Linked DNA regions of Homo sapiens: regions 1 and 3 are each linked to region 2. Evidence: fine-mapped expression QTL. A gene starts in region 2. Each other region holds a variant in brackets. All regions are shown on one strand. Distances are between the middles of the regions.

Evidence for each region.
Region 1: its variant is fine-mapped to the expression of USP34-DT in whole blood (INTERVAL, PIP above 0.99).
Region 3: its variant is fine-mapped to the expression of USP34-DT in whole blood (TOPMed, PIP above 0.99). The same link has a PIP of 0.9 or more in lung.

What each region holds. Positions count from the first base shown.
Region 1 is chr2:61,398,652-61,406,832 of GRCh38, reverse strand. USP34 (ubiquitin specific peptidase 34) reads left to right here. Exons shown (of 80, transcript NM_014709.4): 3 at 705-1,125. Among named protein-coding and RNA genes, the nearest start is that of SNORA70B, 15 kb to the left of the region's middle. The variant T/C (reference allele first, on the strand shown) is at 4,047.
Region 2 is chr2:61,466,661-61,474,841 of GRCh38, reverse strand. USP34-DT (USP34 divergent transcript) reads right to left here and starts at 3,746. Exons shown (of 3, transcript NR_185882.1): 1 at 3,463-3,746. It overlaps USP34 (ubiquitin specific peptidase 34), which reads left to right and starts at 3,755. Exons shown (of 80, transcript NM_014709.4): 1 at 3,755-4,192. The coding sequence starts at 4,150. RefSeq lists silencers at 3,504-3,813, 3,844-3,923, 4,014-4,433 and an enhancer at 7,477-7,976.
Region 3 is chr2:61,380,079-61,388,259 of GRCh38, reverse strand. USP34 (ubiquitin specific peptidase 34) reads left to right here. Exons shown (of 80, transcript NM_014709.4): 6 at 4,924-4,991; 7 at 7,899-8,091. Among named protein-coding and RNA genes, the nearest start is that of SNORA70B, 33 kb to the left of the region's middle. RefSeq lists a silencer at 7,220-7,420 and an enhancer at 7,012-7,513. The variant C/T (reference allele first, on the strand shown) is at 3,804.

The DNA.
Region 1 (8,181 bases), 68 kb after region 2:
GGGTTTCACCATGTTGGTCAGGCTGGTTTCGAACTCCTGACCTCAAATGATCCACCTGCCTCAGCCTCCCAACGTGCTGGGATTACAGGCGTGAGCCACTGCGCCTGGCCAATATTTTTTTTTTTTTTTTAAATACACATATATTTTTTTTTACAGGAGCTTGGGGGGGAGAGAGAGAGAGAAAGAGAGAGTGTGTGTGTGTTGTTCCTAAACACTTTTGATTTGCCAGATAGCGTCAGAGCACCCCTCCCAAGTAGCCTTCAAGGACATTAATCTAAAAATGTGGCTGTTTTATTAGTTGACAACAAAATTCCTTATATTAAATAACCAGCTGGCTTTACTAATAAGATATTTTGTTATAAGTTTCCTAATAACTTGCTAAACATATATTGAGTACTTGACACTGGAGAAACAAAATGTCACAATTCTTGTTTTTAAATAGTTCCATGTGTAGAAGGACAGACAAATCCATACGTAAAACTGAAGATAATAGCTGTAAACCTAACATGATGACTTTACACTAACTAAAATATCAGTTGTTGTTGCGATGCTATCTTTATGTTATTAAGGTGTACCCCAGCAGGAAGGAAAAAATAAAAACAAGTCTAGAAATAACTTAGTATTTGCTTACTTGTTTTTTTATATTATTAAAAAATACAGCTGCTGCTTTATTACTAATTTATTCAATTTTTTTTCTCTTATAGGCAATGTCTATGCTGCTTCAAGGAATATAAGCATTTGGAGATTTTTAATCAAGTAGTGTGTGCACTTATTAACTTAGTGATTGCCCAAGTTCAAGTGCTCCGGGACCAGCTTTGTAAACATTGTACTACCATTAACATAGATTCCACGTGGCAAGATGAGAGTAATCAAGCAGAAGAACCACTGAATATAGATAGAGAGTGTAATGAAGGAAGTACAGAAAGACAAAAATCAATAGAAAAAAAATCAAACTCTACAAGAATTTGTAATCTGACTGAGGAGGAATCTTCAAAGAGTTCTGATCCTTTTAGTTTATGGAGTACAGATGAGAAGGAAAAACTCTTACTATGTGTGGCAAAAATTTTTCAAATTCAGTTTCCCTTATATACTGCTTACAAGCATAATACTCACCCTACTATTGAGGTATGTAAAATAGGTGGTGTGAATTTTAAGTAATACCAAGTCTTAACTTCGCAGTCTGTTTCTTACTGATAAATATGAAGACAGTTTTCTGCTGGCGGAAAATCATTATTGTCACCAGAATTATTTAATGTTTCTCCAGAGCATTTCTTCAGCAGTTTGTGCTGAAAATTTGCTCGGCATAGTTCATCCTATCAAGGAAAGATCTATACATTGAACTCAGAAATTAATCTGGTAGTGATCTAAACATTTTACTGCTATAGATCTATGCTTATTTTATGACTCTTAATAAATAATAGTTGAGGGAAAAGAAACACATGGAATTTTAAATTTCATTCTTAGAAACAGTCTACAGATCAGAATTTGCTTTTATCAAGAAAAAAAAGCTTAGCAAATTATCTGTGATTAGTAGTTTCAAATAATAGTATTTCCTTTTCTTTCTTTCTTTCTTTCTTTTTTTTTTTTTTTTTTTTTTTTTGAGATGGAGTCTCTCTCTGTTGCCCAGGCTGGAATGCAGTGGTGTGATCTCGGTTCACTGCAAGCTCCGCCTCCTGGGTTCATGCCATTCTCTTGCCTCAGCCTCCCAAGTAGTTGGGATTACAGGTGCCTGCCACCACACCTGGCTAAGTTTAAAAAGAATTTTCTTTAGTAGAGACGGGGTTTCACCGTGTTAGCCAGGATGGTCTCGATCTCCTGACCTCATGATCTGCCCACCTCGGCCTCCCAAAGTGCTGGGATTACAGACGTGAGCCACCACCCCTGGCTAAGTAATAGTATTTTCTTTTGTAAGTTAAGATGCTTGACTCTATTAGTGATGTTTTTGCAAGCATTTCTAAGTATGTAGTAACCTATCTTAGACTTAACTCAGATAATATGATTGATTTCTAGGCATAGTGGGAATTGAGACAATTATGTGGTAATATATTAATGACTTAACAGTGGTTTATTATTCCTCATGATTCTCACAGGCAGTTCCTTAGCTAGTTTTGTGTAGGCTGAGTTATGCAGGTGAATTTACTTTGAGAACTGGATGGGTAAGGTCTGGGTCGCACTTGTGTGTGTGGCAGTTGGTAGTGGCTGTTATCTGGGGCTCCTTGTATTTTCTCCACATGGCTTATTTTCCACTAGGGTAGATTGGCTTCCTTAAATAGTAGTCTTAGCAGTGCTCCAGGAAGGCAAAAGTAGGAGCTGTAAGACTTCTTATGATACAGCCTTTGAAATGTCACAGTATAATTCTGCCATATTCTATTGTGCTGCTTTCTGTTACTTGAAGCGGTTCACAAGGGCAGCCCAGATTCAAAGGGGTAGTGAAGTAGACTCCATTGCTGGGGGGAGGAGAGGTAAAATTTCATTTTATATCTTATACATTGTTTCCTGTGCATCCTGGAATATGAAGAATTATGGCCATTAGAGAATCTATGACATTTTTTTTGTTTGTTTTTTATCTGTCTCTTTTCTCTAGCTTATTTGTTCTGTAACCTTTATACCTCTCTTTCTTCATCTGGGAAATAATAGTCCTTTACTGGGATATTTTCATGTCGAATGGAGACTTATTTGAAAACATAGCTTGAGGGCAGATATTTTCCCTGTTAGAATTCTTCGTAAGAATATTTTAAATCAGGCACACAAGTCACCTACTTGGCCCTCTTCCAAGTTGTACTTTCTGTCCTTCTTTCCTTACTGTTCTAAAGCTTTTTTTTTTTTTTTTTTTTTTTTTTGAGATAGAGTCTTGATCTGTCGCCCAGGCTGGAGTGCAGTGGTGTGATCTCGGCTCACTGCAAGCTCCGCCTCCCGGGTTCACGTCATTCTCCTGCCTCAGCCTCCTGAGTAGCTGGGAGTACAGGTGCCCGCCACCATGCCCGGCTAATTTTTTTCTTTGTATTTTTTAGTAGAGATGGGGCTTCACCCTGTTAGCCAGGATGGTCTCGATCTCCTGGCCTTGTGATCCGCCCGCTTCTGCCTCCCAAAGTGCTGGGATTACAGGCGTGAGCCGCTGCGCCCAGCCTCTAAAGCTTTTTGATAAACTTTCACTCACTCCTGCTCTGGGTGGGGGAGAAAGAGTGTTTAAAAGCAGATTGTGCTCTGTTTTCTAAAAATCTTAGCCTGTGATCTTCCAGTATAGAAACTTAAATAATCTCTTACATGATATAAAATATATTAAATATTCTGAAAAAGTAATCTTTTTTCAACAAAAGAAAGTCCCATCAGGCAAACTTGAAATATTTAATCTACATAAACACCATCTACATAGTGCTTTAATATCTTAACTTGGTAACTGAAAGATGCTGAAAATAGTTTCGTTAGGGACTTAGATATGTGAAATTCACAGAAATTTTTTCCAATTAAAAATTTCTTAATGATATAGAACTATATAAGTAATACTGAGTCTGCTGCTTCTAAAATAAACTTGCTCATCAGTGTTTTTTCTTTCCTGTTTTCAAAAATGGTAATCTCTAAATGTAGGCATAGTTACACTCCTGTACTTTGTTTTAAAGTACTTTGTTATTATTATTCGTGAGTATTTTATGTTACTACTTGGTTGAAAGCAGTGGTTTTTTGAGGTCTTCGAGGAAAATTCTGACAAAAAATACCCATAGAGATAATAAAGGAGTTACCTCCTTATACCAAATTCTATTAATATATTAGATATGTGCCTCTTTAATTTTCTTTTCGTAATAGTTGTTTCCGAGGTTTCTATTATCTTAATAATGATCTGTTACAAGTGCTCTAAAATTTCTAGTTTCTATCCCAGTGGCCATTTAATTAAATGCGGTAAGGGTCAACTGTTTCAAATGGTCTTAGATCAAAGACTTGGTAGCATACATGTTATAAAATTATATATATGTATAAATTTTGTATGTATATACACACAATTATTTTAAAGCAAACAAATTATTATGAAATGTAATACAGCTTACTAGAGA[T/C]TTTTATCCCACTTTTCTTTGAGGAAATTGTCCATCTAGTCTTTTCTTTGTGCTGCTGTGCTATCCTTTCTTAAGCCTTTGATTTTGATTTTTCGTTAATATTTTTTAAAGAGGCACAACTTAGCCAAAATTCTTAGGAGGACAAGATTCAAAACTCATGTGTTAGTATTTTGATAGCTGTGTCTTTAGAAACCTACTCAACACTTTTATTTTATAGAAGAAGCAACTGGCCTACAGAGGTTAAAAGATTTGATTGGGCATATTGCTGAGAAGAGTCCTAGAATCCGGGTCTTACTCTACTGCACTACTTCTAAATCATTTTGAACTAATTACTGTATTCTAAATAATATGGGAACTTGGAGCCACTCCTTCTGTCTCCCTTCCTTCTTCTCTTTCCTATTGTCCCCATCAAAGCTGATATTTTAAAAGGTTCGGTAATTGGACATAAGTAGTACTAATTCAGGATCAAAAGGGGGAATGGCCTAGTTTTAATTTTTTTCCCCTTAAGAGACAGGGTCTTGCTCTGTCTCCCAGGCTGGAGTGCGGTGGTGTGATCATTGGTCACCATAACCTTGAATTCCTGGGCTCAAACGATCCACCCACCTCAGCCTCCTGAGTAGCTTGGACACTAGGCATTCACTACAGTGCCTGGCTAAGTTTATTTTTATTTTATTATTACTTTTTTAAGAGATGGGGTTTATCTGTGTTTATGGGGTTTATCGAGACCAGCCTGGTCTCGAACTCATGGCCTCAGGTGATCCTCCTGCCTTGACCTCCAAAGTGCTGGGATTACAGGCATGAGCCATAGTGCCTTGCCATGCTAGTTGCATTTTTTATCCTGAATAATTATGTGTAATTCTGTGAAATCAGATAATTGCTCTAGTGTTGTAAGTTTTTTTCTAAGTATAGGGAAAAAGATTATAAAAATGGGCCGGGCGCGGTGGCTCATGCCTGTAATCCCAGCACTTTTGGAGGCTGAGGCAGGTGGATCACAAGGTCAGGATATCGAGACCATCCTGGCTAACACGGTAAAACGCTGTCTCTACTAAAAATACAAAAAAAAAAAAAAAATTAGCAGGGCGTGGTAGCGGGTGCCTGTAGTCCCAGCTACTCTGGAGGCTGAGGAAGGAGAATGGCATGAACCCAGGAGGCGGAGCTTGCAGTGAGCTGAGATCGTGCCACTGCACTCCACCCTAGGTGACAGAGTGAGACTCTGTCTCAAAAAAAAAAAAAAAAAAAAAAAAAATAGGGCCAGGTACAGTGGCTCACACCTGTAATCCCAGCATTTTTGGAAGCCAAGACAAGAGGACCACTTGAGGCCAGGAGTTTAAGTCTAGGCTGGGCAACATAGCAAGAGCTCATCTTTACAAAAGAAAAAAAAATTAACTGGGCGTAGTGGTGCACGCCTGTAGTCCCAGCTACTTGGGAGGCTGAGGCAGAAGGATCACTTGAGCCAGGAGGTCAAAGCTGCAGTGAGTTATGATCATGCCTCTGCATGACAGAGTGGGACCCTATCTTTAAAAAAGTAGAAAGGAGAGAAACCACTGCATTTATGTTAAATATACGTATGGTATAATCAGACAGATGAAATATATACATGAAGGTTTTATTTTTTAATTTTTTTTTTTTTTTTTTTTGAGACAGAGTCTTGCTTGGTCACCAGGCTAGAGTGCAATGGCGCGATCTCGGCTCACTGCAACCTCTGCCTCCTGGGTTCAGGCGATTCTCCTGCCTTAGCCTCCCAAGTAGCTGGGACTACAGGCGCGCACCCAAAATGCCCAGCTAATTTTTGTATTTTTAGTAGAGACAGGGTTTCACCATGTTGGCCAGGATGGTCTCAATCACTTGATCTTGTGACCTGCCTGTCTCGGCCTCCCAAAATGCTGGGATTACAGGCGTAAGCTACCGCACCTGGACTTATTTTTTAATTTTTGAATCAGGGTCTTCCTCTGTCACTCAGGCTGGAGTAGTACACTGGCACAATTATGATTCATTGTAGCCTTGAACTCCTGGACTCAAGTAACCCTTCACCTTCAGTGTCCTAAGTAGCTGGGAGTACAGGTGCATGCCACCATGCCTAGCTAGTTTTTCAATTTTTTTGAGGAGGCAGGGTCTTGCTCTGTTTCCTGGGCTGGCTTTGAGCTCCTGGCTTTGGGCAATCTTCCTGCCTCAGCCTCCCAAAGTACTGGGATTATAAGATGAGCTGCCACGCCCAGTCAATTTAGTATTTTTTAGAATAATACCAACGTTGTACAATTATCACTACTAATTCCAACATCACTGAGTTACTTTTAAGCAAAAATTTTGAGACATTGAGTTCTTCATGGTTTGATCATGGAGCAGCATTTTCTTAATTTACATAGAATTGCCTTTCCTCTGGCCGGGCGCGGTGGCTCACACCTGTAATCCCAGCACTTTGGGAGGCCGAGGCGGGTGGATCACAAGGTCAGGAGATCAAGACCATCTTGGCTAACACAGTGAAACCCTGTCTCTACTAAAAATAGAAAAAATTAGCCAAGCGTGGTGGCGGGTGCCTGTAGTCCCAGCTACTGGGGAGGCTGAGGCGGGAGAATGGCGTGAACCCGGGAGGCGGAGCTTGTAATGAGCCGGGATGGTGCCGCTGCACTCCAGCCTGGGCAACAGAATGCGACTCCATCTCCAAAAAAAAAAAAAAAATTGCCTTTCCTGTATAGTTACTCATTTATTTCTCTCTGTTTTCTCTTTTAAAATAACCAAATTTCTCTGCTATAAATAGGATGGGATCAACTCATGTAGTAAATGGGAGGTTTTTGAGGAAAAAAAATGCAAGACTTTAAAAATCATTGATAAGTTTATTAAAGCCTTTCTCAGCGATTACCTAAAATAAGAACTTTTGAAAAATACTGTTAATACAGCTTTTTTTTTTTTTTTTTGGGAGACAGTGTCTCGCACTGTTGCCGAGGCTGGAGTGCAGTGGTGTTATCTCGGCTCACTGCAACCTCTGCCTCTCAGGTTCAAGCGATTCACCGGCCTCAGCGTCCCGAGTAGTTGGGATTACAGGCGCCCGCCACCACGCCTGGCTAATTTTTTTGTGTTTTTAGTAGAGACGAGGTTTCACTGTGTTGGACAGGGTGATCTCCAACTCTTGGCCTCGTGATCCGTCTGCCTCAGCCTCCCAAAGTGCTGGGAATTACAGGCATGAGCCACCGCGCCCGGGACCGTTAATTCGTCTTTTAATGAGACTTCCTAGTGTTGTTCTTAGTGTTTTTTTTAACCTATAGATGTGTGTTAATTTTTTATATACTACTTAAAAAATGAGATTATAACATTTTAGGATGCTAGCTTTATGTATTCATATTGGAAATAGAGTGGCAAAACAGTTCCCCTGAATCACCAAAATAGATGTAATCAAATCTGAGTAACACTGCATACCAGGATAGAACTCAATTTTTTTTTTTTTTTTTGAGACGGAGTTTTGATCCTGTTGCCCAGGCTGGAGTGCGGTGGCATGATAACAGCTCACTGCAACCTTCGCCTTCCGGGATTCAAGCAATTCTCAGGAGGCTGAAACCTCCTGAGTAGCTGGGATTACAGGCATGCGTCACGACACCCAGCTAATTTTTGTAGTTTTAGTAGAGACCATGTTAGGCTGGTCTTGAACTCCTGACCTCGTGATCCACCTACCTAGGCCTCTCAAAGTGTTGGGATTACAGGCATGAGCCACTGCACCGGCCGTTAGGAGATTTTTTAGCTGTGCCCATGTTAGGCACTAGAAATCGTGGCTCTAAGATTCTAGCATGGTTCACCTGGTCCATGATTCTGTATTTAACAATACCACAGGAGGTCTTAAATTCTGGACTTTTTGAAGACCATGAAAAAGTTCGTTGAGATTAACATAAAGCTTCACCTCTGGCCCCGGTTGTCATAGCCAGGAGTGGATTTAGGAGGTTTAACACTTACTTTGAGACTTCATTTCTCTAAGGACATTTTTTGTTTATTTTGAAATGTTCTGAGTTCTGTATGATTGCTTTCAATCCATGATTTTCAGACTTTATTTCAGCAGTGTAACTTAAATATCTAAAATAGGTGATGGCAATGATGAATGGGTTTCTTTGGTAGCTTTTTTCAGATGAAAGTTTCTAGCTAGCTTTCTGAT
Region 2 (8,181 bases):
CTGGGATTACAGGTGCCCTCCACCACAACCGGCTTTTTTTTTTTTTTGAGACGGAGTCTTGCTCTGTCGCCGAGGCTGGAGTGCACTGGTGCGATCTTGGCTCACTGCAACTTCTGCCTCCTGGGTTCAAGCAATTCTCTTGCCTCAGCCTCCCAAGTAGTTGGGACTATAGGCATGCGCCATCAAACCCGGCTAATTTTTGTATTTTTAGTAGAGACGAGGCTTCACTACGTTGGCCAGGCTGGTCTTGAACTCCTGACCTTGTGTTCTGCCCACCTCCCCCTCCCAAAGTGCTGGGAGTACAGGCGTGAGCCATTGCGCCCAGCCTAATTTTTGTATTTTTAGTAGAGATGGGTTTCATTACGTTGGCCAGGCCGGTCTCTAACTCCTGTCCTCAAGTGATCTGCCCTCCTTAGCCTCTCAAAGTTCTGGGAATACAGGTGTAGGCCACCATGCCCAGCCAAGAAAAATACATTTTATTTTTCTCACATAAGCAGTCTGAGCATAGACTGTTGTTCAAAGATGCATCAGGGATCCACACTTTATGATTCTGTTTTATCATTTTTTTTCGAGATGGAATTTTTTTTGCTCTTGTTGCCCAGGCTGGAGTGCAATGGCAGAATCTCGGCTCACTGCAACCTCCACCCCCGGGTTCAAGCAATTCTCCAGCCTCAGCCTCCCGAGTAGCTGGGATTACAAAGTGCCCGCCACCACACCCGGCTCATTTTTTATATTTTTAGAAGAGATGGGGTTTCAGCATGTAGGTAAGGCTGGTCTTGAACTCTGACCTCAGGTGATCCACCTGCCTCAGCCTCCCAAAGTGTTGGGATTACAGGCGTGAGCCACTGTGCCCGGCCTGTTTAATCAAATTTTTTAAACAATGAAATCGCAAATGGGGTAAAAGTTTTCATTGTTAAAAAAATTACAAGATGGGTATTACTTTGTGCATCAAGACCATGTTTCAGGCAGAAAGGGTTAAATGGTATGTTAGCTGAATTTGTCCCTCATCGTATTAGGAATTCTTTTGGGAATTCTTCCCAAAGAACCCATCCTGCAGATTTCTGCTTACATTTCTTTTTTTTTCCAGAGAGGGTCTCACTCTGTCACCCAGGCTAGACTGCAGTGGTATGACCACAGCTCACTGCAGTCTCAATCTCCTGGGCTCTAGTGATCCTCCCACCTCAGCCTCCCCAGTAGCTGGGATTACAGGTGTGCACCACCACATTCCACTAATTTTCTTATGTACTGGAGATGGACTTTTGCCATGTTGCCCAGGTTGATGTAGAACTCCCAGGCTCAAGCAATCCATCTGCCTTGGACTCTCAAAGTACTATGATTATAGTCGTGAGCCACCACGACCAGGTAATTTTTTTTTTTTTTTTTTGAGACGGAGTCTTGCTGTGTCGCCCAGGCTGGAGTGCAGTGGCGCGATCTCAGCTCACTGCAAGCTTTGCTCCCTGGGTTCATGCCATTCTCCTGCCTCAGCCTCCCAAGTAGCTGGGACTACAGGCGCCCACCACCATGCCTGGCTAATTTTTTGTATTTTTAGTAGAGACGGGGTTTCACCGTGTTAGCCAGGATGGTCTCAATCTCCTGATTTAGTGATCTTCTCGCCTCGGCCTCCCAAAGCGCTGGGATTACAGGCATGAACCACCATGCCTGGCCTTTTTTTTTTTTTTTTTTTATGAGACGGAGTTTCACTCTTATCCCAGGCTGGAGTGCAATGGCGCGATCTCGGCTCACCGCAACCCCTGCCTCCCGGGTTCAAGCGATTCTCCTGCCTCAGCCTCCTGAGTAGCTGGGATTACAGGCATGCACCACCATGCCTAATTTTGTATTTTTAGCAGAGATGAGCTTTGTCCATGTTGGTCAGGCCGGTCTAGAGCTCCCGACCTCAGGTGATTTGCTCACCTCAGCCTCCCTAAGTGCGGGATTTCAGGAGTGAGCCAACGCGCCCAGCCACCTTTTAAATTTTTGTAGACACAGGGCTCCCACTATGTTTCTCAGGATTGTTGCTTACCTTTTATCAGGAGGAACTCAATTATGTATGGCCAGCCCTAGAAAAGCCAGATCACCATGATGGTTGGTTTCAACTGCTACCTGAAAAAACGTGAGACCAGCACGTTGGCTCATACCTGTAATCCTAACATTTTGGGCCGGAGGATCAGTTGAGGCCAGGAGTTTGAGACCAGCCTGGGTAACATAGCAAGACCCTGTCCCTACTAAAAATAAAAAACAATTAGTTACGTGTGGTGGAGAGCGCCTGTAGCCCCAGCTACTAGGGAAGTGGGAGGATCCCTTGAGCCCATAAAGTGGAGGCTGTAGTGAACTGTGATCGCACCACTGCACTCTAACCTTGGCGACAGAGTGAGACTTTGTCTCAAAAAAAAAAAATTCAAATAAAAATAATTGGGGTTGTGTTGGCAGGGAAAAAAGGGATACGTGGGAATGTATGTTGAGTGGACAACGAATGTCTGCCTCAGGATCCAAAGTAAGTCTGCAAAAACCCAATTCTGTGAGAAAGACAAGGAAGAAGGGAAGATGATGGTAGAATAGAACTACAATCCTAAGGATCACCTGCTAGTGGGAAACAAAACGGGTTGGGCAGACTGTTTATAGTATCAACTTCAAGCAGCAGAAAGGCAAAGCATTTGGAACCAGGTGGTTCTGGCATGGAGAGATGGGCGTGCCATAACCTCCACAAAAGCTATCGAGAGAATGACTACAGAGCCTTGACAGACACTCTGGTTACCGTTCAGAGATTCTGTACACGATCTTTCGGACTTTGCAGTCACATGTCTATGTAAACACGTTGAACACAAAAATTAGCAAGCAAGGGGTAAGTGCCGGCGTGAGGAAAATTCCCTTACAAGCTTCAGCTGACTGCCCCCTTCACCTGTTCTTTATCTTAATATCCTTGTTATTCGCTCTCTGCTGAAGAAGATTTCTTGCTATTTCAGGTGGGGCTGATGGGCACATCGTGAGGGGCCCTCTTCCGTAAAAACGAGACGATGTCAGGCAAACACTCCTTACCCTGCCATTTCTAGTTACGTCAAGGATCTTACTGCTCCAGGACGGAGGACCTTCAAGGAACTGCAGGGTAGCGATAATCACCGATGCAGTTAAGCCGGGCCCTGGGCTGATTCACTCTCAGACCCCGGGGGGAGTGGCCCTTGCGCCCGAAAGAGGGCTACGGCGTAGACCCGGCCCGGCACCCAAGTTGACTCCTTGCTTCCCGTACCCCAAAAGCCTAAGCGCGGAAGAGGCCGGGGACACCAAAGAAACCCGCACCAACTCCCCGACCCAGGCCCTGGGGAAAAATGGCGAAGCCCAGGGGCGGGGGACAGGACGGAGCGAGTGACCTGGCGCTCCCCGGGCCTCAGAGCCCGTGGAGTGGGTCGTGGTGGGCGACGCCACGCAACCGCGACCCGTCCGTTGCCTCCGCCATCTTCTCCTACTCACCCGGACTCCCCCCGCGGCCGCGCTGGCTTCGCGTTTCCCTTCCGGCCGCTGACAGAGATCCGGGCTGGGCGGGGTGGGCGAGCGCGCGGAGGGGGTGGACCGAGGGCGGGGAGGCCGGACGGAAGAGGAAAGGGAGGGCGGCGAGCCGGCCACGGCGGGGTGTGGAGCGTGCGGCGTGTGTGCGGAGGGAGAGGTGGGGGGCGGAGGAGAGGCGAGAAAGGGAGGGAGGCGGAGGAATGAGAGCGCGAGGCGCCTCTCGTCCGCTCCTAAGCCCGGGCGGAAAGAGCCGAGCGCAGCCCGAGCGCTCTGTTAAAATGGCGGCGGCGTCGGCGGTGGCCGCGGCGTCTGGTCGGTGAAGTGACTCTGCTGCTTCTCTCCCCACCCGCCCCCTCCCCCCCTCTCCCCTCCCCCCGTCCTTCCCCCCCTTCCCCGCCGCCGGCGCCTCGGCGCCCCTCCGGCCTGCGCACCTCCCCTCGCTCCCCTCCTCTCCCCCTCCCGCTGCGGGGACCGCCGGCCCCCTCCCCCATTCTCTTGCTCCCCGCCCCGTCCCCGCCGCCGCCCGCCCTAGTCGCCTCCCCGCCCCGCCGGCCGGCCGGCCCCCTCCTCCGCCTCTCTCCCCTCCCCCCCGCCGGTCGGGATCAGTCAGTGTGATCCGAAGCGGGGGAGGGGGGGGGCGGCGGCCGAACGATGTGCGAGAACTGCGCAGACCTGGTGGAGGTGTTAAATGAAAGTAAGTAGCCGCGGTAGCGGCCTGTCGGGGTGCACGGTTTGGGGTCCTCGCGCAGCTCTCTGGCCTCCCCGGGCTGCCGCGGCCTGCGGGAGGCGACGGCCGGGCCGGGCGGCGTGCGGGCCTAGCGCCCCGGGAAGGTGCGCGGTGGCGCGGCCGCCGCGGCGCCTCGGGCCCAGCCCGGCCGGGTTACCTGGGCGCCCGAGAGGCGGCCGCCGCGGAGCTCCGGCTCGGCCTGGCCCGGGCGCTCTGGGCTCTCGGAAAGTTTCCTCATTACAGGTGTCAATTAATGAAGGCAGTAATGAACCCCTCGCCGCCTTCGCCTCCTTCGCCCTGCCGGGAAGGTGCGGGGAGGTGGGGTCGGAGGACGAGGCTTTCCTCCGCAGTCCAAATCCTCCGGCCGCCCTCTTTGATTTCCAGCGTGCTGCCGAGGCCTCTCTTACCTGCTAATTTTCATTAAACTCCCGGGAGCAGGGTGGTGGTTTTTCCCTCCCTTGCGGGTTTGTGGGTGTCTTAAACACTTCAGCCAGACCTTAAATAGCTGAAAACGAACTGTGATAGTGATGATTGGAACCTTCATACCTATTTTTAAAATAAATTTGTTAATGATGTTTCTTAGTGTAGCATTCACCGCTTTAATGGTACATTCTGTTAAGCAGAGCACTGTACTACACATACCATCCCGGGATAGTTATGGCCTATCTCTCTTGGAAGGAAAGGCCTTTTACCTGGTACTTTACTTTTTATTATTAAAAAGGGTACGTTGATCTTTTCTGGCCTTTTTATTTTATTCTCGACCCTTGCAAGATGGTATTTCAGCTTATAGAAGATATATTGCAAATCAACTACTTCTGGGCGTAAAGGCCTAGTTGGCAGAGGTGAATTAGATGAAGGGATCAATTTACAAAAAGTTGATTGTTGAAAAAATGCTCACTTATGAACAGTTTATGTGGGTTTTGGATTTGTATTCTGTTTGTGATATTTCCACAGACTTTCAGACTATCTAATTTTGTAATACAATTCGCTAAAACAGTTGATTTATAAAATGTACCATGGTATTTGTGTTTGACTGTCACTTTAATGACCAAAGACAATAATAAAAGTGGAAGGGTTCTAACTTAATTTCAACTCCGTATTTACTTCCTGATAGGTGGAATAGGCTTTTGCACATATTCCAACTAGAGGTTCCAGTATTTGTGTCACCCTAAATTATCCTAGAATTTTAAGATTATTTGTGTGTATTTTGAGATACTTTTATTTCTGGCGCAGGCGGTTTACGATATGATAAACTTAAATCCTCAATACTTACTGTGTTTTATATCTCACATACAAGTCGTGTGATTATGATTGTTACGCTCAACTTGGAAAGTTAATCGTTTTGCAATGTAATATGAGGAACAAGTACTTAATTTTGTTGGTGATTTTAAATATCTTTTTTTTTTCTTGAGACAGAGTTTTGCTCTTGTTGCCCAAGCTGGAGGGCAATGGCATGATCTCGGCTCACTGCAAACTCTGCCTCCCAGGTTCAAGCGATTCTCCTGCCTCAGCCTCCCAAGTAGCTGGAAATGTAGGTTCCCCACACCATGCCCGGCTGATTTTTGTATTTTTGGTAGAGACGGGGTTTCACCATGTTGGTCAGGCTGGTCTTGAGCTCCTGACCTTGTGATCCGCCTGCCTCGGCCTCCCAAAGTGCTGGGATTACAGGCGTGAGCCACTGCGCCTGGCTGATTTTAAAATATCTTAAACTTGGAAAATTTTAAACAAAACATCTAAAGAAAGTAAAGTTGGTTTATCTTTTGAAAAGAGGTGGCATCTTGATCATAATGAAAGGTCTTATTTAAGATTATCTGGGAAACCCCTAGAACTTTGGTTAGAAGCACTGAAAAATGCAGTGCATTTATGGAGTGTTAGAAATGTGGAGAATTGAAATAGAATTTAGCTTTTATTACCTTTAAGCAAATACAGTTAGTTCAACCAGCTTCTCAAAATCTGGTCATGTGCACCCTCTAAGAAACCTGTTCTAATGAACAAGTAAGGATTTTCTATTTGTGTGTAAGCCAGTGGACTCTAAAAATACTTAGTTTCTTAATATTGCCTTTGAGGCTCAATTTAAAAGTTTAACTCTTAAACAATAATCTCACAGTGATGCTTCCTTTTTAAAAAAATTTACGGCCAGGCGCAGTGGCTCACGCCTGTAATCCCAACACTTTGCGAGGCCAAGGTTGGCGGATCACCTGAGGTTGGGAGTTCAAGACCAGCCTGACTAACATGGAGAAACCCCGTCTCTACTCAAAATACAAAATTAGCTGAGCGTGGTGGCACATGCTTGTAATCCCAGCTACTGGGGAGGCTGACCAGGAGAATTGCTTGAACCCGGAGGCGGAGGTTGCAGTGAGCCGAGATTGTGCCATTGCACTCCAGCCTGGGCAACAAGAGCGAAACTTTGTCTCAAAAAACATTTTTTTTACTTCAACAATTACATGTGTAGTTTATACCACACTATTAAAAGTTGTTTTTTTTTCTGTAGTTCTTTGCTTATCCGTGGCTATGATGGAGCATGATAATGAACATGAGTGGTTGGAGCTTGATAAAACTTGTTGAAGTAGATTATATGTGTTTCTTGTGATCTCATTTGCAGTAATTACCTATAAAGTCTGCCCTTTTCCCGCCTGTACCTTGTACAAAGATGAGCATCAGTTCAACGTTGATTTAGAAATTCAGAGTTGGCCGGGCAACTCTGAATACAGCTCACGCCTGTATTCCCAACACTTTGGGAGGCCGAGGTGGGCGGATCACAAGGTCAGGAGCTCGAGACCAGCCTGGCCAATATGGTGAAACCCCATCTCTACTAAAAATTCACCAATTAGCCGGGTGTGGTGGTGTAGGCATCTGTAGTCCCAGCTACTTGGGAGGCTGAGGCAGGAGAATTGCTTGAACCCTGGTAGGCGGAGGTTGCAGTGAGCCGAGATCATGCCACTGCACTCCAGCCTCGGCCACAGAACAAGACTCCATCTCAAAAAAAAAAAAAAAAAAAACAAAGTTACAGTCCTCCCAAAATGTGCTCAGAATTCATCTTTAAATACGACACCCTGTAACAGTTTAGCCAGCTGAGAGAAGCAATAAAATTGTGCATATTTTTGGGTGGTGTGTTTCCAGGTCATGCTGAAAAATACGTAATTAGTATTAAAGCAACCTCACAAAACAGTCAGACGTGGTGGTGCGCCCCTGTAATCCCGCCTCGGCAGGAGGCTGAGGCAGGAGGATTGTTTGAGGCCAGGAGTTCGAGACCAGCGTGGGCAACATAGTAAGACTGCTTTTTTTATTATTATTATTTTTTTATTTTTTATTTGGAGACAGAATCTCGCTGTGTCACCCAGGCTGGAGTGCAGTGGCACGGTTTCGGCTCACTACAACCTCTGCCTCCCTGGGTTCAGCAATTCTCCTGCCTCAGCCTCCCAAGTGGCTGGGATTACAGGCACACGTCACCATGCCCAGCTAATTTTTGTATTTTTAGTAGAAACGGGGTTTCACCATATTGGCCAGGCTGGTCTGAACTCCTTACCGTGTGATCTACCCGCTTCCGTCTCCCAAAATGCTAGGATTACAGGCGTGAGCCACCGCGCCTGGCCAAGACTGCTGTCTTGAAAAAACAAACCAAAAACACTGTTTCTTGTGAAATTAACAAACAGTGATCACACTTAGAGAAGGCTACCTGGGCAAACGAGTGTAATAAATTTTTTTTTTTTTTTTTGACACGGAGTCTAACTCTCACCCAGGCTGGAATGCAGTGTCGGCTAGCTGCAACCTCCACCTCCCGGATTCAAGTGATTCTTCTGCCTCAGCCTCCTGAGTAACTGAGACTACAGGCACCCGCCTCCTTGCCTGGCTAATTTTTGTATTTTTAGTAGAGGTGGGATTTTGCCATGTTGGCCAGGCTTGTCTCAAACTCCTGACCTCAGGGGATCTGCCTGCCTGTACCTCCCAAAGTGCTG
Region 3 (8,181 bases), 87 kb after region 2:
GATTTTATTATTTTTTGAGACAGTGTCTTACTCTTGTCACCCAGGCCAGAGCGCATTGGGGTGATCTCAATTCGTTGCAACCTCCACTTCCTGGGCTCAGGCGATCTTCCCACCTCAGCCTCTTGCATAGCTGGTGTGTGCCACCATGCCCCGCTAAGCAGATGTGGGGTTTTGCCATATTGTCCTGGCTGATCTCAAACTCCTGAGCTCAAGCATCCTCCATCCTTGGCCTTCCAAAGTCCTGGGATTACAGGCATGAGCCACTCCACCTGGCCTTTTTTTTATATTTATATATATATATGTGTGTGTGTGTGTGTGTGTGTGTGTGTGTATAAATATATTTTTACATATGCTTATATATAAAAATATATTTTTACATATGCGTATACGTAAAAATATATATTTTTACATGTGTGTATACGTAAAAATATATTTTTACATGTGTGTATACGTAAAATATATTTTTACATGTGTGTATACGTAAAAATATATTTTACATGTGTGTATACGTAAAAATATATTTTTACATGTGTGTATACGTAAAAATATATTTTTACATGTGTGTATATGTAAAAATATATTTTTACATGTGTGCATATGTAAAATATATATTTTTATATATGTGTGTATATGTAAAAATATATATTTTATATATGTGTGTATATATAAATATATATATTTTATATATGTGTGTATATATAAATATATATATTTTATATATGTGTGTATATATAAATATATATACATACATACATATATATACACTCACACACACACTTTTGTTGTTGTTTTTTTGAGATAGAGTCTTGCTCTGTTGCCCAGGATGTAGTGCAGTGGTGCGATCTTGGCTCACTGCAGTCTCCACCTCCTGGGTTCAAGCGATTCTCCTGCCTCAGCTTTCCAAGTAGCTGGGATTGCAGGAACCTACTACCAAGCCTGGCTAAATTTTTTGTACTTTTAGTAGAGATGGGATTTCACTATGTTTGGCCAGCTTGGTCTCGAACTCCTGACCTCAAAGTGATCTGACTGCCTCAGCCTCCCAAAGTGCTTTGATTACAGGGGTGAGCCACTGCACCTGGCCTGTTATATATTTCTAACGACTAATGAGAATCAGCACCTTTTCATAGGCATATTACTTATTTGGATTTTTTTTGCGAAGTACCTGTTTAAATCTCTCGCCCATTTGCAAAATTGGATTGTCTTTTTCTTGCTGATGTTTAGAATTTCCTTGTGTGTTTTAGATAGACGTCTTTTTAGGTAGAAGTGTTTTGTTTGATATATGTATTGCCAATATCTTCCACTCTCGTGTTGCTTTTCACTGTTGTGTTGAAGAAATATTATTCATCAAGCTTCATGTTGTACAGTTTGTCATTTTTCTTTATGGTTAAGGTTTTCATTTTTGGTTGAAAAAGTCATTTTTAACTCTAAGGCCATGAAGATACTTACAAAGTTTTTTTTGTTTGTTTCTTTTTAGATGGAGTCTCGCTCTGTTGCCAGGCTGGAGTGCAGTGGCTTGATCTCAGCTCACTGCAACATCCACCTCCTGGGTTCAAGCGATTCTCCTGCCTCAGTCTCCTAAGTAGCCGAGACTGCAGGCACTTGCCACCACGCCCAGCTAATTTTTTGTATTTTTAGTATAGATGGGGTTTCACCATGTTGGCCAGGATGGTCTCGATCTCCTGAGCTTGTGATCCATCTGCCTCGGCTCCCCAAAGTGCTGGGATTACAGGTGTGAGCCACCGTGCCCGGCCAAAGTTGTTGTTTTTTTTGAAAAATTTTTTCTTGCTTACCTTGATCAGGAAACAAGTATTATTGCTTTACCTTTCATATTTTGATCTATTCAACTGCAATACATTTTTATTTATAGTTTCAGGAGGGATTAAGATTCATTTTCTTTTTCATACAGATATCCAGTGTTCCTAACACTGTCACAAAGACAGTCATTTCTTCTTTGTTCTGTAGTTCTACTTTTGTTGCACAGGTTAGTGTTGAACTCCTGGCCTGAAGTGGCCTGAAGTGATCCTTCCATCTTGGCCTCCAAAAGTATTGGTTACAGGTGACTCATGCCTCATCACTACAATGAGCCAAATCGGATGTTTTTATGTGCATGGGTTTGGGCTCTTTGGCATAGTATACCATTCTATTTGCCTAATTTTGTGCTGTTTTGCCTACTGACTTAATTACTGAAGCTTTACAAGAAGTCTTGCTCTCTGGGAAAGCAAGTACTACCTCCCTGTCATATTTCTTTTTTTTTTTTTTTTTGGAGACAGAGTCTCACTTTGTCACCTAGGCTGGAGTGCAGTGGGACGATCTCAGCTTACTGCAACCTCCACCTCCTGGGGTTCAAGTGATTCTCCTGTCTCAGCATCCCAAGTAGCTGGGATTACAGGTGCGCGTCACCACACCTGGCTCATTTGTTTTTGTGTTTTCAGTAGAAACAGTTTCACCATGTTGGCCAAGCTGGTCTTGAACTCCTGACCTCAGGTGATCTGCCCACCTCGGCCTCCTGAAGTGCTAGGATTACAGGCCTGAGTCACTGCACCCAGCTTCTCCTTGTCGTATTTCTTTTTTTTTTTTTTTTTTTTTTTGAGACAGAGTCTTGCTTTGTTGCCCAGGCTGGAGTGCAGTGGCATGATCTTGGCTCACTGCAAGCTCCGCCTCCCAGGTTCACGCCATTCTCCTGCCTCAGCCTCCCAAGTAGCTGGGACTACAGGCGCCCGCCACCACGTCCGGCTAAGTTTTTTGTATTTTTAGTAGAGATGGGGTTTCACCATGTTAGCCAGGATGGTCTCGATCTCCTGACCTCGTGATCCGCCCGCCTCGGCCTCCCAAAGTGAGATGTGAGCCACCGCGCCTGGCCTCCTTGTCGTATTTCTTAGAGAGTTTTAGCTATTCTTGGACCTTTGTGCTTTGAATGAGTTTCATAAGTTCTGCATGTAAACCTTTTTGGATTGTACTGAATCTATAGATGAATTTCGGGAGAACTATTATCTTCACAATAAATATGGCAAATGTCTCCTTATTTACATGTTGTTTAATTGATTATTTTCCAACTTTTTATGTAGAGGTGTGTATCTTGTTAGATTACTCCTAGACACATGATATTTTTGATACTGTTCTTAAGGGAATCGTTTTGAAAACTGTATTATTTGTTCTCAGGAACAAATAATAAGAAAAGAACATATATAGGGTGTTGTGTGTATGTATAGATAGGTGTGTGCATATTTGTTTATATTAACCTAGCAGCAGTTTTGCTAAACTCTTTAGTTTCAGTGTTTATCTGATAATTATTTTGGGTTTCCTAATTATATAATTATATTATCTCAGAGTATTATTTTAAATTCTTCTTTCTAGTCCTTTGCCTTTTATTTAGTTTCTTAACTTATATTGTCTAGGTCCTTCAGTTCAAGTGGAATTGAGGCTTCCTTGTCTTGTTCCTAGTCTCAGGAGGCAAAGTTTTTAACATTTCATCATTAACGTAGTATTTACTACAGGGTTTTTATAGACGTCTTTTATTTGATTATAGTGAATCCCTACATTCTGAATTCCCAAATTCATGTATTTTATTTTTTAATTTTTTTTGTTTTGAGACATGGTCTTGCTGTGTTGTCCAGGGTGGAGTACAGTGACGCGATCCTGGCTCACTGAGACTTCCACCTCCTGGGTTCAAGCGAATCTCCCACCTCAACCTCCCAGAGTGCTGGGACTGCAGACATGTGACACCATGCCTGGCTTATTTTTGTATTTTTTTGGTAGAGATGGGGTTTCAGCCATGTTGCCCAGGCTGGTCTTGAACTCCTGAC[C/T]TCAAGTGATCCACCTGCCACGATCTCCCAGAGTGCTGGGATTATAGGCATGAGCCACCGCGCCTGTCCAGATTTTTTAATTTGTATCTCCTGCCTGTGTCAAGACTCAGTATCAGAGTTTTTTGTTTGATTGGTTGGGTTAGGATTTTTATTCTTACTATTTTTGAAAATAAAACTGTTATATAATGTATTCACATTTGATTTATAAATGTTAAAATATTGTGTAGAAAAAATGAGGAAATATATTTATTGTAACTTTTATTATAACTCAGTCGAGCTGTAAGTTACTTATAGTAAACTTAGTAAGTACTTGTTGATATTGTAATCAGTGTGTGACTGTAAAATATATTTGCTTCAGATACTGAAATGACTAGAAATTATGGGTAATTTGAAATATTTTAGGAAGGAATGATGAGATGATTAGTTAAAAACTAATACGGTTTATTAAAAAACTAATACAGTGCCTTGTATTGGGGATGCTACCGTACAAAGAGGTATAGAGAATTATTTGGTAAGGAAATATTACTTTGAGAGATGGTTTTGTCTTTTCAGCAAGAAGCTAAGATTAATTTTTCAGACAGACTTCATGTAAAATAAGATATATAATATATAGGTTAAATTTCCTGATACATGTGTAATTCTGTTTTGTACTATACTCTTTTCATAATTGATAATATATGTAATTATAGAGGCAGCAGAATACTAAATGATCCTCGTTTTTGTTTTGTTTTTTATTTGAGACGGAGTCTCGCTCCGTTGCCCAGGCTGGAGTGCAGTGGCACAATCTCGGCTCACCACATCCTCTTCCCCCCGCCCCCCCCGGGGGTGGGGGTTCAAGCGATTCTCCTGCCTCAGCCTCTCAAGTAGCTGGGACTACAGGTGCGCGCCACCATGCCCGGCTAATTTTTGTGTTTTTAGTAGATACGGGGTTTTACTGTGTTGGCCAGGCTGATCTCAAACTCCTGACCTTCGGATCTGCCCACCTCAGCCTCCCAAAGTGCTGGGATTACAGGCGTGAGCGACCGTGCCTGGCCAATGCTCTTGTTTTTCATTAGTTTAGTGAAAGATATATGTATTTCACATATTAGGCATTAATGTTGTTTTTATGTTTCTTATATAGATTAGAATATGGCTACATATTCCCGCTGTCATGCAGCACATTATACCTTTTAGGACCTATGTTATTAGGTAAGTTTATAAAATTTCTTTACCCCCGATTATCAGTGTAATATATTTAAACAATTTATAATATAGAATTATATTGTTTGAAAGTCCCCTATAGTCATATCCTCTAGAGAAAATTTCAAGTAACAGTTTGGTATATAGTGTTTTTTATGCACATATATGGATTTATATTTAATGGTTACTTTTTAGTAAATTATGTTGGACTTTTTTTTACATGAGTATGTAAAGAATTAAAGAGATTAATAATGGTTATTCCACTGTATTTAGTCAGCAAATACACAGTAAGTGTCTGTTACGTTCTAGGCACTGAGGATATAGCAGAGAAGAAAACAAATTGCAAAAATCTCTGCTCTTGTGCAGTCTGTTTACAAAAGAAGTAAATGATAATACTACATCAGAAAGTGATAAGTATTATAGGATAAATAGCAGCAAAGGTGGCTTGAGAGTTCTAGGGGGTGGGTTACAGTTTATGGGGACAGGAAAGGTCTCATTGAACGAGAGGTGACATTTGAATTTTATAAGTCTCAACTTAAAAAGGAAGCCTAAGAAGATGGAGAAAGGGTTGTACTGATTAGAATTAAAGTATGAACTGTCAGGATTCTGCATATTTTATTTCTTGATAACATTTATGACAGTATTGTACTTTTTTTCTCATTTGCAAAGGTTTGAGTGTTCCCTTTTTCACAGCACTACTCAACTTTTGGGAGACAGTATCAGGCAAAGAATCAGATAGTGATGAATGCTATGCAAGTAAGTTAGTGTGATACAGAGGGAGTATGGGGCCTTTCTGAAGGGTGATATCTGATGGACGTGAGTCAGCTATTCAAATGATTATTAGAAAGACGTATTGTAGAAGGAACATGTCAGTATAGGCTTTGAAGTTGGCATATGACACAAACTAGAAGCAGATTGGTGTGGAGAATAATGTGTAAGGGGATATAGTTTTGAAGGTGGAGAGATAAGCAGGGGCAGATTATTCAGGACCTTGTAGGCCACTGTAAGGAGTATGGATTTAATTTTTTCAATGGGAGTCTATTGAAGGGTTTTTAGCAGATGTTTCATGATTTTTTAAAAGTTTTATTTGGCTTTTAAATAGATCATAAATATAGGGTGACTGGAATAGAAGCTAGGAGGAGACCAATTGAAAGGTTTATATATTAGTCCTGGAAGGAAAGTGATGATTACTTACAGTAGGATTGTTAATGATGATTTTGAAAATTGGATGAATGTAAGTGAAAATAAAATCAATAATACTGGTCATTATAGGGTATAAAGAAAAGGGTAGCATTGTGGATGTGGATGACATTCAGCACCCCCCCTCCTCAATTTTTTTTATTTGTACTGTGGATATCATTACTGAGATGTGAAAATCTGGGAGAACTTAAAGACAAGACTTTGAGAGGCCTGTGGGACTTAAATGGCACTGGCAAATTGGGAGTATGAACTTGTAGTTCAGAACAGTTTTCATTAATGTAAGAGTTGTGAGTGTAAAGATGGTATTTAAAAACCATAGGAGTCACCTGAGGAGAGCATACAGGAAAAGAGTAGAGGTGAGTCTAAGATAGAGCTCTGTATGGGTTGGTTTTGCTGTGTAAGAAAACATCCCTCAAAACTTAGTGGCTTACAACAATAGCCAGCCAGGCATGGTGGCTCATGCCTGTAATCCCAGCACTTTTGGGAGGCCGAGGCGGGAGGATCACCTGAGCCCAGGAGTTCAAGACCAGTCTGGGCAACATAGCGAGACTCCATCTCTGTGCAGAAGAAAATTAGGTGGTCGTGGTGGCATGCTTCTATAGTCCCAGCTACCAGGGAAGCTGAGGTGGAAGGATCACTTGAGCCCAGGAGGTCGAGGCTGCAGTGAGCTCTGATTGAGCAATTGCACTCCAGCGTGAGTGACAAAGCAAGACTTTGTTTTATAAAAAAAGAAAAAATGAAACAACAGCCATTTATCATTTCTCACAGTTCTCTGGTTAGCTAGGTAGTTTTGTGTGTGTGTGTGTGTGTGTTTTATTTTTTTTTAGTTTTACATTTTTTGTTTATTTTTTATTTATTTATTTTTTTTTTTTTTATTGATCATTCTTGGGTGTTTCTTGCAGAGGGGGATTTGGCAGGGTCATAGGACAATAGTGGAGGGAAGGTCAGCAGATAAACAAGTGAACAAAGGTCTCTGGTTTTCCTAGGCAGAGGATCCTGCAGCCTTCCGCAGTGTTTGTGTCCCTGGGTACTTGAGATTAGGGAGTGGTGATGACTCTTAACGAGCATGCTAGCTAGGTAGTTTTGTTGATCTGTATTGACTTGGCTGAAACTGGATGGTCTAGGTTAGCCTTGTTCCCACATTCTGTGATTGCCATGCCGATTGGTCTTGTGGGGTGAGCGGGAATCTCATATATGTCTTGTAGTTGGCTTCATGTCAGTTGGAGCATCAGGCACTTCTCTTTCATCCAGCAGGCTAACCTTGGTTCCTTGTTTTGTTGGTGATTAGAGTTCCCAGCAAGAGAAGGCAAGCTCAAAGGCTTTTCTAGCTTCCACTTATGTCATGTCTATTAATATCTCATTGGCCAAAGCAAGTTACATGGCAAGGCCCAGATTTAAGGTGTAGAAATAGATTACACCTTTTGATGAGAGGAATAGCAAAGTCACATTGCAAATTCTTGTACATATAATGATGGGAGGAATTTGTGGCCATTTTGTAATCCATTACAGGCCTTGAGGAAGACTAATGTTGAAAGGTTGGACAGCAGAGAAGGAATCTGCCAAAGAGATTAGGCAGGGCCTGAGAGGAAAACCAGAGGTTTGTGGGTTTTGGACACAAAAAATGTTAATGCTTACAATGTACATTTTAAGTTACTGAGTGGTCTTTAAAAATGCTTTATGAATTTTTGTGTATTTTCTATTTCTGAATCATTTCAGGTATTTATGCAAGCTCTCGGATCAGGAGTTACGACAGAGTGCAGCTCGTAACATGGCTGACTTAATGTGGAGCACAGTCAAAGAACCATTGGATACAACATTATGCTTTGATAAAGAAAGCCTAGATCTTGCATTTAAGTACTTTATGTCACCTACTTTGACTATGAGGTTGGCTGGATTGAGTCAGATAACAGTAAGCTGTATTTGTTTTATTTTTGGTCATCGTTTATTTGTTTTCTGGTCTATCATAATACTACCCACTATTTATGGAGCACTTCATACT